2 separate regions of the Homo sapiens genome follow, and region 1 is linked to region 2. A link means that fine-mapping ties the variant in region 2 to the expression of a gene that starts in the linked region. Tissue or cell type: spinal cord. Region 2 holds a variant in brackets; the other region holds the start of a gene. All regions are shown on one strand. Distances are between the middles of the regions.

Region 1 (5,130 bases), 210 kb after region 2:
TGGCAGGGCATCAGTTTCCGGCCTTACCTTGTCAGCCATGATCATAGATGCGCCCCCATGAATGCCCAAGATGGGGACGAAGGTGTGGGAGGAGATAAAATCCAGCATCTGGGCTACGGCCTCCTGGTCCGTGTCGTCCCCAAACACGAGGCCGTGGATGCGTGCCCCGGACATGAGGTCGCACACGTGCGTGATGAGGCTCTTGGGGTCGGTGCGGTTCATCAGCAGAGCTACCACGTTCACGTCCAGGGGCAGCCCCGCCGCCTGCTCGGGGCCCCACAGTGTTCGAAGTTCGCGCTCTGTCACGTCGTGGCTGTGACCCAGCATCACCGCAATATTTAGCGCGGGGGGACCCTTCTCCGCCGCCGCGCTCGGCGCCGGACCGCGCCAGACCAGAAGGGCCGGCAGCACCAGCAGGGTCCAATAGCCCACTCTGCCCATAGTCGCCACTGACGGTCCCTGCAAGGTGAAGAGTGAGAGGCAGGGCCGCGGTGAGCAAGGCGACCAGAAGAAAGGGATTACCAACTTGGCTTCCTGCTCTAGGAGCCAGGCATGGAACTCAGCAGCAGGATAGGCTGCTGGGATCACGGACTCCATTCCGAGTCCCCGACGCCATCCACATCCCTCGATCCATCTCTAACTCTATCCACAACTCCAATTCGAGCTAATTCTCCATCCCCCAGCCCCTTCTCGCATCCAGCTTCCTCATCCCCTGTCTCCAGGCACTTCCCCATCCCCATCTCTGTCCATATCCCCCACCGCATTCCCCAAGTTCGCCGCGGGCCACAGACCCTAAGCGCCGCGCGTGTTCTGTACCCCACCAAGCTCCTAGGTGCACAGAATAAACCCTCCATCCAACCCCTCCCACCTGGGATAGAGAGGACCAAGTTATCAACCCCGCCCCCTGCTGGCGCGGAGCGAACTACAGACCCCGCAGGGCGTGCGGAGGCGGCACCCAGACCCCGCGTCCCAGCTTGAGAGCTCAGCTAGTTGGCTGACCCCGCCCCCTACGAGCCCGTCGTGTGCACCACACACTTTGCTCTACGCCCAGCCCCAACTACAGACCCGGCTCCTCTCAGTCAGAGTACACCCCAAGTGCTTGGGAGTGAGGACGCTGCCTGGTGGGCCCAGGCTCCGCTGTGCCTGGGGAACTTGGGGCTCGCCCCACCTCGAGCCAAGGGGCCGTGGAGAGTCCTTCACCCCTACACGCGCGCGTGCACACACACGTGCACACACACACGCACACACACATGTTCACACACACACACCCTCTCTCACGCGCGCCGTGTGCAATGCTGAATTCTGGAGAGTAGGCGCGTCCCCCCGCGGGCCAGCGCGTAGGAGCTGGCAAAGAACGTGCGTAGGGGGAAAGGTAGGCTCCCAAGAAGCTCCCAGACGGACGTGGACTGTACAGCCCCTCCCTAGCCTTTCTACTGCGGGCGCTGTTGCCAAGTCCTAGGTGCACGTGGGCAGTGGGCCGCACACGCTCATAGGCACGCGCGCTTTTCTGCGCACTTCCTCAGACTGCTGTAGCGGTGCCCACGGCCAGCCGGAGTCCTCACATGTCCTCAGGTGGTGCACACGCATGAACTGCGGCAGGTGCACAGCCCTGCGTACCTGCAAATACCAGCACGGTCGTGCACGCGTGCCCTGACGCGCGCCTCTCGGGACGGACGCTGCTGGAGCCGGGGGAAGTTGAGGCGAACTCCAAGAGGCCTCGACGTTCCTGGGTAAGCGCCGCGGAGCGCGGAGCCGCAGCGCCCCCTGGTGCCCCTCCTGCACTTCGCCGCTGGGCTCCCTCCCGCTTTCCCTCTCCCTCTCTAGCCTGATCCCTCTCCCGCTCTCCCTCCGGTCGAGTCTCCCTCCTCCCCGGCCCAAGGAGCCCTGATCTCCCTCTGGGACGTACCTGTAGCCCGAGAAGGTCGAGGATGCAGTGGGGCGCGCTGCGCGCACGAGCATCTCGGCCGCCTCAGCAGCCACCGGGTTTAGCGGGTTCCCGCATGCTGCGGCCCCAGCGCGCTCCCCTGGCTGTCCCGCGCTGTCCGCATCGCCCCCACGGGGGGCGGCTATCCCAGCCGGAGGCTCTGCAGCAGGGCTCTAACGGGGCGGAGGAGAGAAGGAGAGGCAGGGTCAGCCCACCAACGAGGGGAGGGAGGGTTGAGGGGAAGGCTGCAGTCTGCAGTGCTCACAAGCCCCCCTATGCGCCCAGGGGGGCTAGACAAGAGGGGGGAAGCTGAAGCCCGATGCCCACGACGCCCCCAGTGCGGATCCTCAGCCCCTGTGGCTGATAGCGGGAGCTCCACTCCAGGGTGCACAGGAGAATGGGAGCCCCAGGTTGGCCACCCACGAGAAGCTAACTGGGCACCTCCACCCGCACCCCCTACCACCTCCCCAGCGCCGGCTGCTGGGAGTTGTGCGACCGGGAGCTGCTGAGCGAGGGAGGTAGGGAGAGAAAGAGGAGGTAACGAGGGTGGGGGGGCGCTGGCTGAGTTTGTGACGAGCCAGCAGTAGGAGAGGGGGAGGGAAGGACGCGGGCTCCCGCGGTCCCGGTTCCCCGAGGGAGGTGGATCTTTCCCACGCAGCGACCCTCTTGTGATCCTGCCGCTTCCTCCCTCTTCAGGCCTCCCACCTCCCCCCTTCCCAAGGGGGCCTCCCAGGCCCGGCGTCCCGCGCTAGCACTCACCGCAGCCTCTCTCCACATAGTTCTCAGCAGTGGCCGCTCCTGGTCATCTCCAGGGCTGATGGCTGCGGCCGCGATTCTCAGCGCTCACCCGGTCCCATGATCCGGCCAAGCCCTAGGAGCTCCCCTCCAAGATCCCTAGCTCCGCTTCCTGCCCCACTCCGGACGGCAACTGCCCGGTCCTCTGAGCGCGCCGGAGCACCCTCTCCGCAACCCAGCTCCGGGCTGGTGTGTTTGAGGGCGAGTGTGTGTGTGAGTGTGGGAGCGCGCTCGCGTGTGGCCGGGGATCCCCGCGGTCCCCGGCCGAGAGAGGCGCGGGCGGGGAAAGGCAGCTCCCTCCGGGCCCTTCGCTGCTGGGCCAGCTCCGCGCCGGGCGTTCGGCTCCCCACTTCCCAGCGGGAGTCCGGTGAGCGCCTGGACACCCTGGTTCACAGCACTGGCAAAGCCGGGTTCCCGGGGCGTCTTTCTGCTGCGGTCGCCTCCGAGGAAGAGGAGAAGGAAGGTAGCGGCGCCCTCCACACCAACTTAGGGACTTGTTCTCAGCCGGCGAGACGCAGTAGCCCCCGCTCAAGCCCAAGAGGCTTCGAGCTCCGGCGGGCGAAAGCGTCTCCTGCCCGCAGCCTCTCTCCTAGGTGGGTCGAGACAGACCCCGCAGTCCCTCGGCGGCGACGCGGAGCGCGGCCACCCGTTCCGAGAGCGCACGGCGGCAAATAAGGCCAGGATAGGTGGCTGGCTGGCGACGGGGGCGCCTGCGGCGGCGCGCGCTGCTGTCCGTGGTGTTGGAACCACGCTCTCCGCCCGCTCCCGGGCGTCTGGTGCGGCTGAAGAATCAATTATTCAGATCTCTGCTACCGCTTCCTCCTCCCCCAGTGCCTCGCGCTGGGTACAGTTATCCCCCTCCACGCACAGGCGCGCCGACACACACACACACACACACACACACACACACACACACACAGAGTCTGCTCCAATGCTTCTCCCTGTGCCTCGCCACCCCCGTACGGGAACCCACTCCTCTGATCTCAGGGAGCCAGAATCCTAAAAGCAAAGACATCTGCATTTCCCACATGCTTCCTTCTAAGTTCTACCAAACAGAAGCCTCCCTGAGGCTGCCACTTCTAAGCTACCAGAAGAGGTGAGCCAGAGAACATGGGACGGCCCGGGTGTGTGAGGGCTTGGTTGACTTGAATTCTAGCGACTGGGCATGAAATACATGGTCAAGGGAGGAGCTCTGCCCCTTTTATATTCACCTGTATCTCCAACGCCTGTCTGCCTTTCAGGCCTTGGAAGGAAAGGGGTCTTAAATTCTAAGAGGTTTTGCAATGACTGTTCCAACCCTGCCTCCTCCACTTAACCTAATGTCACCTGCTGCGGTCTAAATGTGTGTGTTCCCACCCCCAAATTCATAGGATAAAATCCTAACTCCCAAGGTGATGGTATTAGGAGGTGGGGACTTTAGGAGGTGACTTCATGGCTTCATGAGAGTAAAATGGGATTTGTGGTCTTATAAAAGAGATGCCAGAGAGTCAGCTAGGTCCTTCCACCAAGTGAGACTTAATCAAGAAGGCATCGGCCTATGAACAGGAACTAGGCCCTCCCCAAATACTGAGTCTGCTGCTGCTTCATCTTGGACCTCCCAGCCTCAAGAAGTGAGAGAAATAAACTTCTGCTGTTGATGATGTTTTGCTATGGCACCTGGATCAAACTAAAATATCACTTTTGGACATTATATTACTTCCCTTTATTGATCACTAATCTGGAAATGGGGGGCAGTAAAAACATCTACTTCTCAGGATTATTTTGAAAAGAAAAGGAAGTAGCCTTAATAAAGGGGTCAACAAGGTCTGGCACATAGTAGATGCTCAATCAACATCATGCACCTTGAAGTAGCCTGGAAGCAGGGGAACTTCTTCCAAGAATGTGGATGTGGCTGCTGAAATGGAGACAGGAGAGGGGCACAGTGTGTGGAGACAAATGGATTCATTATTGAGCTGGTTGTTCTATGCTGGGTTTCCTGGGTTTTTGTTTTTGTTTTTTTTTTAATCCAAAAGACAGAGAAAGCGTGAGGGAAATGCTGGAAAGTAAATTAAAATGGGGGATTGTATAATATAAGGCAGGGAACAGGAAAATGTTTCCTTTCTTGAGTCTATGGCTGGGCTGAACTGATTAGGCCACTCCTTGGCACCCATGCAAGACTCTGGCTTGGGGTCTAAAGGGGAAGTTAGGCCATTTTATTTAAATGAGTTATAAATTATAGACAATAAAATGCATATCTCTCAAGGGTTTCATTTGTGAAGGTTTTTTGGTGTTTTTTTATTTTTTTGTTTGTTTGTTTTGTTTTGTTTTGTTTTTTTGACAGGGTCTCACTCTTGCCCTGGCTGGAGTGCAGTGGTGTGGTCGTAGCTCACTATTAACTTGAACTCCTAGGCTCAAGTGATCCTTCTGCCTCA
Region 2 (5,000 bases):
CCCTATTCACAAATAATTATCTAGCCCAAAATGTCAAGAATTCCACTGCTGAACAACTCTGCCTTAAAGCCTTAGCTGCATCAGCAGCTCACAGGAGACTCACAGGCACGCCTACTCCCGCACGCCATCTTAGACCTACTGAATTAGAATTCTCTGAAGTGGGGCCTGGGGTTGGTGTTTTAACACACTCTCCGTGTGAATCTTATACACACTACAGTTCAAGAATCACACTCTAGGTAGAGCCAACCTTGACGTCAAAGAAATCTCGAGTTCTTGTTCTGCACCAAGCATTGGGATCCCTAATACAGAAAAAAGCAGCTCAAATTCAATGTTTGAGTAAGCACTTGACTTCAGCCTTCAGGATACAACCTGCTAGGCCTCCAGGTGAATAATTTAACTTGTTTTCTCTTTATTAGCACTATTCCAGAAAAAAATTGACCTGTAAGGTTCATAGTCCAAAGCAACAAGTCTTTAATGTACAATCCTTTTCTTAGCCCTGGAGCTTGGAGATTATTTCTTCAAGTTTAAAGCTAGGAAATAGAGCAGTGTTTTGGTGCATTGCCCACTAGAGAGACTGGAGTAGAGACCAATGCAGGAAAATCCTGAAACCTTTTCATCTTATTAAGCTCAGTTTATATTTTAAAACATATGAAAGAAAGTGCTTTTGAGATATGGAGATAAAGATACGATAGATCTGCTAAGGAAAAGAGGCCTTGAGGATTGTTTAGATTCACTTGGCTGCTGGAGGGCCCTAGAAAGAAGTAAATTAGAGGGGAAATAAATCTGGAATCGAGTTCTTGCTCTGCCTTAACTGACTGTGAATTTAAAAAAAATCATTTTGGTTCAAGAAATATGTATTAAGGATCTCTGATGAGCTAGACACAAAGTTAGGTACTGAAGATAAAATAAATAAAGCAGGCAGAGTCCCCTACCTTAAGAAAATTACAGGCTGGTAAACTCTCAACAGGAGAAATATTGGATATATCAAATATAGTTCCTTCCCCTGAGAAACGCAGACTGGTTGGTGAGACAGACAAATAGATTTTATGATTTCAGAACAATGTAGTAAATGTTAAAGTATTACAGAATGCTATGGAATAATGGAGAGATGAGAGGCTTATTCACCCTGGGAAATAAAGGAAGCCTTTCTGGAGAAGACAAAGAGTTGTGTAGATAGTCATTTGAGAGGCAAGACTGGGGGGAAGGGGAGAGGCTAGAAGGCTATTTCAGGAATTCTATAAAGAGATGATCAAGGCATGAACAAAGGCTATGGGTGACAAATAAGAGCAGACAGTATGAGGTGGGGTGAATTAAGGATGCCCACACTGTTTTCTGTTATTCTTCCCATTGACAGGTGGATTGCTTTATTCTCCTCTTGAATCTGACCAGCACAGTGACTATGTGACCAATAGAAAAGCCTAATTTTCAGTAAAACAGAAGCTTCCACTTCTTCCCTGATATAACAATTTCCCTTGGGTATGTCAACTCAAAACTCAACCACCATGCTTTGTGAAATCCAAGCCACATAAAAAGGTTACATTAGGCAGTGAGCTACGCCCCCAAGCCAATAGCCAGCTCCATCCACTTAGCCATGTCATGAGCCATCTCATACATTTCAGCCCAACTGTGCTCTCAGGGAACTGTAGCCTCAGCTGTTATTACATGCAGCAGAAAAACCACCTAGTAGAGCCCAGTCAACCCACAGAACTGTGACTGACAATAAAATGATTCTTGTTTCTAGCTCCTGTATCTTGTAGCAAGAATATATAAGAATGTAAAACTGCCAATGTCGGGTAAGAAAATGAGATGGCTGAAGATGATGACATGTCAGTCTAACTTTACCATAAAAATTATCTGATCTAGTTTATCTGAAAAATAGTTCCAGCAGTGTAGAAGTTTAAGAAAACAGCAGAAGATAGCCAGAGTTCTGCTTCTGGTATGGTAGGAAATCTCTTAACAGATTCCCTCCCACACCCAAACAGGTAAAAAATTAAAGCTAGAAGGAAAAAAAAAATATACCTGAAGGCTCTGTAGAGTAAAAATAGCCAGTAGATTTCACAGGGACATTGAAACATGGAAGAAGGGCTCATCATAGAGTTCTACATTTTTGCCACCTAGGTCTGACAGCATGCTGCTGTCCCAAAATGGCACCGGGTGGCTCAACATCTAGTGGAAGAGCCAACCTCTTTCTGGCCTGAGGAGGTGGAAGTTAGAGACCTGGAAGTCCACGGCCAGCAGAATATAAAAACCCCAGAAAGAGGAGACTTAGAGAAGGGAATTCTTGGCATGTATATGTAAACTCTGCCCAAGCCTCTGGCCAGTCCTTGAACAAAGGGTGAGTAGACAAGGCTCA[A/G]AGTAGTTTGCATTTAAACCCAACAGGACTGAGAACTAAGCCTCCACCTGAGAGACAGATATGGAAATGTAAGTATAACCAGGTTAGTTACCTGCTAAGACACAAATATGAATACTCTTTAAGGAAATATAACCCACAATATAGCATTCACAAAGTGCTAGTACAATTCAAAATTACTTTACATATAAGAAGTAGGGAAATCTGACCCATTCTCAAGCAAAAAAGACTTACTTTACATATAAGAAATAGGGAAATCTGACCCATTCTCAAGGAAAGAAGACAATCAACAGAGGCCAATCCCAATATGATCCAGGTGTTAAAGCAGCTATTCTAACAATACACTTAATGAGGTAAAGGAAAATATGCTCATCACAAAGAAAAAGGTAGGAAGCCTCAGAAGAGGAAAATAAAAAAAAGAACATTTAGAAATGAAAAACAAAATATCTGAAATAAAGAATTTACTGGATAGAACTAACATGAGAATGAAGATGACATAGGCAGGAGTCAGAGAGCTTGAAGATAGATCAATAGAAATGACTTAAGCAGAGGGGCTTTTATAAATTGACAGAGTGAGATCTAACATACATGTGATTAAAGTGTAACCACCCAAGATCACCTTGCCACTGTCTAGACAGAGCCGATTTATCAAGACAGGGGAATTGCAATAGAGAAAGAGTAATTCACACACAGCCAGCTGTGCAGGAGACCAGAGTTTTATTATGACTCAAAATCAGTTTCCCCAAGAATACAGGGATCAGAGTTTTTAAGGATAATTTGGTGGGTAGAGGGCCAGTGATTCAGGAGTTCTGATTGGCTGTCTGGAGATGAAATCACAGGGCGTTAAAATTGTCCTCCTGCTGTGAGTCCGTTCCTGGGTGGGGGCCACAAGGCCAGATGAGCCAGTTTATCAATCTGGGTGGTGCTAACTGATCCATCAGATGAAGGGTCTGCAAAATATCTCAAGTACCGATCTTAGGTTTTACAATAGTGATGTTATCCCCAGGAGCAATTTGGGGAGGTTTAGAGTCTTGCAGCCTTCAACTGCATGACTCCTAAACCATAATTTCTCATCCTCTGGCTTTAGGCAATCCCCAGGCAGGAAGGGTGTTTGTTTTGGGAAAGGGCTAATATCTCTTTGTTTCAAAGTTAAACTATAAACTAAGTTTCTCTGAAGGTTATTTTGGCCTACACCTCCGCCCAGGAAAAACAAGGACAACTTGGAGGTTAGAAGCAAGATGAAGTCACTTAAGTCAGATCTCTTTCACTGCCATGATTTCTCAGTTATAATTTTTGCAAAGGTGGTTTCAAAAGTTCCTACAAGAAAGAGAATGGAGAAGGGGAAAAAATATTGAAGAATAATGGCCAAAAAGAAATTTGGTGAAAGACATAAACTTACAAATTCAAGAAACTCAAAGAACCCCAAATAGGACAAATGTGGAGAAAACCATGCTAGGCACATCACAGTCAAACTGATGAAAATCAAAAGAAAGAAAATCTCAAAATTAGCAAGAGAAAAATAGCACATTATATATAGAGAACAATGATTCAAATTTTTCACAGACTTAAGATTAGAAACTACAGAGTCCAGAAGACAGTGGAATAATGTCTTTATAAGTGCTGGGGGGAAAAAAAACAAATTCTATAATTAGTGAAAATGCCCTTCAAGAATGAAAAAGAATTAAAGACTTTTCAGATAAAATAAAACTAAGAGAATTCATTTCCAGCAGACCAGCCCTTCAAGAAATGCTAAAGGAAGTTATTCAAGCTGATACAAGAGAAAATAATACCAGAAGAAAACTCTAATTCCTTCAGGAATTAATGAAGAGCATTAGAAGCATAAATATCTGGATAAGCATAAAAGACTCTTCTTTTAATTAAAAAAATACATATGCATGTGACTATTTAAAGCACAAATCCTTACATTGCCTCTTAGGGTATTAATGTACAGATGCAATGCATATAACACTATAGCATACAGGATGGTGAGGGTGGAAGAAGAGAGACAGGCCCTCTCACATTGTTTTATACGGTTTTATACTCAGAAAAAGAAAGAGAAGCGAAACTAAAGGCAGTTAGCCTGGTGCCTAGGAACCAGACCCAAAACCAAGGAACCAGACCCGAAATCAGGCCTGGGCCTGCCTGACCTAAGCCTGGTAGTTAAAGATCGACCCCTGACCTAACCGGTTATGTTATCTATAGATTCCAGACATTGTATGGAAAAGCACTGTGAAAATCCCTGTCCTGTTCTGTTTCGTTCTGATTACCGGTGCATGCAGCCCCCAGTCACATACTCCCTGCTTGCTCAATCGATCACGACCCTCTCACGTGGACCCCCTTAGAGTTGTGAGCCCTTAAAAGGGACAGGAATTGCTCAGTCGGGGAGCTCAACTCTTGAGACAGGAGTCTTGCCGATGCTCGCGGCCGAATAAACCTCTTCCTTCTTTAACTCCGTGTCTGAGGAGTTTTGTCTGCGGCTCGTCCTGCTACAAGGGGAATGAGTAGGCCCTATACTGAAAAGTTTCTACATTGTATGTGAAGCAATGCAATACCAACCCTAAGTAGCCTGTGAAAAGCTAAAGATGTTTCATGTGATCCCTAGAGCAATCACTTTAAAAATGCAAATAGAGATAATTTCACTTCTTCCTTT

Evidence for each region. PIP is the estimated chance that this variant, and not a neighbour inherited with it, causes the effect.
Region 1: GRIN2A starts here. The variant in region 2 is fine-mapped to the expression of GRIN2A in spinal cord (GTEx, PIP above 0.99). The same link has a PIP of 0.9 or more in caudate, hippocampus and putamen.

What each region holds. Positions count from the first base shown.
Region 1 is chr16:10,179,971-10,185,100 of GRCh38, forward strand. It overlaps GRIN2A (glutamate ionotropic receptor NMDA type subunit 2A), which reads right to left and starts at 2,458. Exons shown (of 13, transcript NM_001134407.3): 1 at 1,907-2,458; 2 at 28-459. The coding sequence starts at 441. RefSeq lists silencers at 1,546-1,655, 1,666-1,725.
Region 2 is chr16:9,969,811-9,974,810 of GRCh38, forward strand. The region is part of intron 2 of GRIN2A (glutamate ionotropic receptor NMDA type subunit 2A); the gene reads right to left. Among named protein-coding and RNA genes, the nearest start is that of GRIN2A, 210 kb to the right of the region's middle. The variant A/G (reference allele first, on the strand shown) is at 2,354.